Regions from separate parts of the Homo sapiens genome. Here region 1 is linked to region 2. Evidence: fine-mapped expression QTL. A gene starts in region 2. The other region holds a variant in brackets. All regions are shown on one strand. Distances are between the middles of the regions.

Evidence for each region. PIP is the estimated chance that this variant, and not a neighbour inherited with it, causes the effect.
Region 1: its variant is the best candidate, but not a certain one, in a credible set for the expression of HYAL4 in lymphoblastoid cells (GTEx, PIP 0.50).

The regions. Positions count from the first base shown.
Region 1 is chr7:123,791,150-123,794,068 of GRCh38, reverse strand. It overlaps a transcript of HYAL4 not described here. Among named protein-coding and RNA genes, the nearest start is that of WASL-DT, 43 kb to the right of the region's middle. The variant A/C (reference allele first, on the strand shown) is at 1,335.
Region 2 is chr7:123,843,591-123,846,509 of GRCh38, reverse strand. HYAL4 (hyaluronidase 4) reads right to left here and starts at 1,341. Exons shown (of 5, transcript NM_012269.3): 1 at 825-1,341.

The DNA of each region.
Region 1 (2,919 bases), 52 kb after region 2:
CCTCAGCCTGGACTTTGTTGTCCACATCATGATCAGCACTTTGGTCAAAACTATTCAACAAGTTTCTAGGAAATTCCAAACTTTCTCACATCTTCCTGCCTTCTGTGCCCTCCAAGTCTCTAGGAAGTTCCAAACTTTTCCAAATTTTCCTGTCTTCTTCTGAGCCCTCCAAATGGTTCCAACCTCTGCCTGTTACCCAGTTCCAAAGTCGCTTCCACATTTTGGGGTATCTTTACAGCAGCACCCCACTCTCTGTGGTGCTAATTTACTGTATTAGTCCATTCTCATGTTGCTAATAAAGTCATACCTGAGACTGGATAATTTATAAAGAAAAGAGATTTAATTGATTCACAGTTCAGCATGGCTGGGGAAGCTTCAGGAAACTTACAATCATGGGGGAAGGGGAAGCAAACACATCCTTCTTTACAGGGTAGCAACAAGAAGTGCCTAGCAAAAGTGGGAAAGTCGCTTATAAAGCTATCAGATCTCGTGAGAACTCACTATCATGAAAAGAGTATGAGGCTAACGGCCCCCATGATTAAATTATTTTCCACCAGGTCCCTCCCATGATATCTAGGGATTATGGAAACAACAATTCAAGATAAGATTTGGGTGGGGACACAGCAAAACCATATCAGATAGTAATCTCCCAAGTCCTGAGATGTTCTATATAATAACATGACCCAGACAACTTTGGGTCTCAGATTTTATCACTGTAAAACAGTTAGGCATAAGGGTAAAATATTTAGAGACAACTGTCTAGCAAATACTTCAAATTGTTCTTAAGCAAAGAAGGCAAAATAAGTAGCTTATTGTGTGGCAAGCACTAGTTGCTTTAAGGAATATTTTGGACCAGATCAAGTTTGGAGCATGGCATGAGACCCTCTGTACATCCTGGATAGCACAGCTTCCTGTTATACAAAGTTCCAAAGCTTCTTGACCATCACAGAATGTTTTGAAACACCACAACTGATGCTCAGACACATACCTTGTTTTGCATGGTCTTAGGATAGCTGTAGAAGAGAGCTCAATCCTGGTCCACCAACTGTGTTAAGGCATCCACACACCAGTCTAGGGGACTGGGATCCCCTGAAAAAGGCTGGCCCGAAGGGACCTCAGAGCCTATGAGAGGAGGTCTGGAAGAGCAGGCTGAACTGGTAGCCTGCCTGAATGTCAGAGGAGCAGTGGACCATGGTAGGAGGGAGCTTGACCTTACCTGATATTACTCCCTTCCCCCTGAGCATCAATGTGTTATGACAGTAGAAGGCTAGGATGTCAGTTACATCTGTTTCTAGGGCCCTAACTCTTCTGTGAAAAACGTCTCTGATCATGAG[A/C]CTCTAAGGGAGTTTTCCTACCAGTCAGAGAGGGAGAAAAGCAAGAGATCAGCAGTCTGGGGATGAGACAGGGCATGAGAATAAAGGAAATTGTGGGCAAACCTCACCCATGGGACCTCCCAGACAGAATAAATTAACAGGAGGGGCTTCTACTAAAAGACCCAGTCAAGCAGGTGTGGGCTCCAAGCCTTGAGATTTGGACTATTATTATATATGTGACTATTTGTATGCCCTGGCAGATAAAGCTACAGCTATCTGTGTTCAGTGCATTTAACCTTCACAATTAATTTTACAGAAGAAAAACTGAACCTCAGCAAGGTAATTTACCTAAGTGCAAAGAGATAAGAGGCAAAGCCAGGAATCAGAACCAGAGCTGTCTGACTCCAAAAGCCAGGCTCTTACTTCCACAACTTAAGGCATCTCAAGAGGTGGAAGATTCAGTGGAGCATAACCAATAAATACGTACCGTGTTCTAAATAATGATAAAAAGCAAACTAATGTGAGCAGTTTCTATGTGCTATGTGATCTGCCTGTGTAACAGTGTGACTTCCTGAAGAATTTATTGATACCTTGATTTTTTTCCCCCTATTTTCTTCTCATCAGTGAAACAATGAGGTCAGGGCTCTATGCCCTTGAGGTCTAGAGTTCCCTTGTCCTCAGAGTGAGAGTTCATAGGGCTCATTTCAAAGCTCTCAGCCAATGAAGAAATTAAACTGGACTGTCCCAAAGAAGATGAAAATAGAGGCTTTGGGAGATTGGCCCAACCTTGCAGTTGGTTTCACAGATGCAAACATTGGGAGAATTGTGAATTTCTTCACGTGCTTGGACTTGGCATTCTGGAGGTTACAAGTCCTTGTATGGGAACAGGTGTTTGGAACAGATGAGAATTGGCCATTAAATGCTATGTCTTGAGCATCTTTTTAAGACATTTGTGACTAAGCAGTCAGCAGAGAGGAATTTTGAGGAAGTTTTGGGCCAGCTCACCCAAGGAGGCCGTCTCCAGTGCATGGCAAAGAAACCATGCTCAACTACTGTTGAACATTTGGAAGACTGAGCTGCCATCCATGTCTGTGAAGGTTGTATACAAAATGGCCCTGTGCACAGCACCCAAGTGGAGCCAAGGGGTAAATGGCTATCCCTGTGGACCAAGAACCAGGCCCTTCCCCTTTTCCTGGGAATATGTAAGCCCCAGGGTTTTTGTAAATTCCAGTGAGGATAACCCCAATTAATCACTGATATTGAGCTTATCATTGACCCTGATAAGTTATGATTTGGAGATGGCTTTATTTAGAAAATAAAGAAGCATACCATCTCTTGTATCTTGAGTGTAAAGAAGCTATTCATAACTTTACACAGACAATAAATCATTTTCTATTTACATGATGAATTACTGAAGTTCTATTATCATTCTCTTTTTACAGATAAAGAAATTAGAACTTAAAGTTGAACAACATGCCCATGTTGACATGACTCATAAGCCCTTTTAAATATAAGGAATTCAGGCCTTTCGGACTTCCCAGCTTTATGAAAAACACTGTGGCACCATTCTACATGCTGTGAAAACTAATTCAAGGAGCCTGTCACC
Region 2 (2,919 bases):
GCTGTTTGAGAGGGCAAGGTGGGAGTGAGACTGGCCTTTTGGGTTGTATGAGAGCTGGGTGAGGCCTGTGACTGCCAGCTTTCCCTCACTCCCCTGACAACCTGCATGACACAGCAGAGGCAACCCTAATCCTCCTGGGAATATAACACCATTGGCCTGGGAACAACACCCCCATCCACCACAGCAGCTGCCACCAAGACCAACCCAAGGAGAGTCTGAACTCACACATGCCTAGCCCTGCCCCCCTGATGGTCCTTCCCTACCCACCCTGGCAGCTGAAGACAAAGGGCATATACTTTTGGGAATTCTAGGGCCCTGCCCACTGCCTGATGCCCCTATGCTACTACAGCTGATGCTCTCTTCAAAGTGCCACCTCCTGGCAGGAGGCCAATACAAAAATAGTGCATTAAGCAACCAAAACTAAGGACCTTCACAGAGTCCATTCCACCCTGCTGCCACCTCCACCAGAGCAGGTGCTGGTATCCATGGCTGAGAGACCTGCAGATGGTTTACATCACAGGACTCTGTGCAGACAACCCTCAGTGCCAGCCTGAAGCCTGGCAGACCAGCTAGGTGGCTAGATACAGAAGAGAGATAACAATCACTACCACTCAGCTCTCTGGAAACCACATCCATAGGAAAAGGGGGAGAATACTACAGCAAGAGAACACCCCGTGGGTCAAAAAATCTGAATAGCAGCCTTGAGCCCTATACCATCCCTCTGACATAGCCTACCCAAGTGAGAAGGAACCAGAAAAACAATTCTGGTAATATGACAAAACAACTTTCTTTAACATCCCCCCCAAAAAATTACACTAGCTCACCAGCAATGGCTCCAAACCAAGAAGAAATTCCTGATTTTCCTAAAAAAGAATTCAGAAGGTCAGTTATTAAGCTAAACAAGGAGGCATCAGAAAAATGTGAAGTCCAATTTAAGGAAATTTAAAAAAAATGACTCAAGAAATGAGAGGCGGAATCTTCAGTGAAATAGATGGCATAAATAGCAAGGCACGGTGGCTCACCCCTGTAACCCAACATTTTGGGAGGCTGAGGCAGGCAGATCACTTGAGGTCAGGAATGCAAAACCATTCTGGCCAATATGGTGAAACCCCATCTCTACTAAAAATACAAAAATTAGCTGGGCATGATGGCATGCTCTTGTAGTCCCAGCTACTCAGGAGGTTAAGTCAGGAGAATCACTTGAACCCAGGAGGCAGTGGTTGCAGTGAGCCGAGATCACACCACTACACTCTAGCCTGGGCAACAGAGTAAGACTTCATCTCAAAAAAAAAAAAAAAAAAAAAAAAGGAAAAGAAATAGATAGCATAAATAAAATAAAGAACTATTGAAACTGGAAGATGGCCAAATAGGAACAGCTCCAGTCTGCAACTCCCAGCATGATCGACGCAGAAGACGGGTGATTTCTGCATTTCCAACTGAGGTACCTGGTTCATCTCACTGGGACTGGTTGGACAGTGGGTGCAGTCCAAGGAGGGCGAGCTGAAGCAGGCGGGGGCATCGCCTCACCCAGGAAGTGTAAGAGATTGGGGGATTTCCCTTTCCTAGCTAAGGTAAGCCGTGACAGACTACCTGGAAAAACAGGACACTCCCACCAAAATAGTGCTTTTCCCAAGGACTTAGCAACCAGTAGACAAGGTGATTCCCGTGCCTGGCTCGGTGGGTCCCACGCCCACAGAGCCTTGCTCACTCCTAGCACAGCAGTCTGAGATTGAACTGTGAGGCAGCAGCCTGGCTGAGGGAGGGGTGTCCGCCATTGCTGAGGCTTGAGTAGGTAAACAAAGCAGCTAGGAAACTCGAACTGGGTGGAGCCCACCACAGCTCAACAAGGCCTACTGCCTCTAGACTCCATCTCTGTGGGCAGGACATAGCTCAAAAAAAGGCAGCAGACAACTTCTGCAGACTTAAACGTCTCTGTCTGACAGCTCTGAAGAGAGCAGTGGTTCTCCCAGCACCGCGTTTGAGCTCTGAGAAAGGACAGATTGCCTCCTCAAGTGAGTCCCTGATGCCCGTGTAGCCTATCTGGGAGACACCTCCCAGTAGAGGTGGACAGACAACTCATATAGGCGGCTGCCCTCTGGGACGAAGCTTCCAGAGAAAGGATCAGGCAGCAATATTTGTTGTTCAGCAATATTTGCTCTTCTGCAATACTTGCGGTTCTGCAGCCTCCGCTGGTGATACCCAGGTAAACAAGGTCTGGAATGGACCTCCAGCAAACTCCAACAGACCTGCAGCTGAGGGACCTGACTGTTAGAAGGAAAACAAAAAGAAAGGAATAGCATCAACATCAACAAAAAGGTCATCTACACCAAAACCCCATCTGTAGGTCACCAACATCAAAGACCAAAGGTAGATATAACCACAAAGATGGGGAGAAACCAGAGCAGAAAAGCTGAAAATTCTAAAAATCAGAATGCCTTTTCTCCTCCAAAGGATCGCAGCTCCTCACCAGCAATGGAACAAAGCTGGATGGAGAATAACTTTGATGAGTTGACAGAAGTAGGTTTCAGAAGGTCAGTAATAACAAACTTCTCTGAGCTAAAGAAGGGTGTTTGAATCCATTGCAAGGAAGCTAAAAACCTTGAAAAAAGATTAGATGAATGGCTAACTAGAATAAACAGTGTGGAGAAGACCTTAAATGACCTGATGGAGCTGAAAACCATGGCACAAGAACTTCATGACGGATGCACAAGATTCAATAGCCAATTCGATCAAGCGGAAGAAAGGGTATCAGTGATTGAAGATCAAATTAGTGAAATAAAGCAAGGAGACAAGGTTACAGAAAAAGAATAAAAAGAAATGAAAAAGCCTCCAAGAAATATGGGACTATGTGAAAAGACCAAATGTATGTTTGATTGGTATACCTGAAAGTGATGGGGAGAATGGAACCAAGTTGGAAAA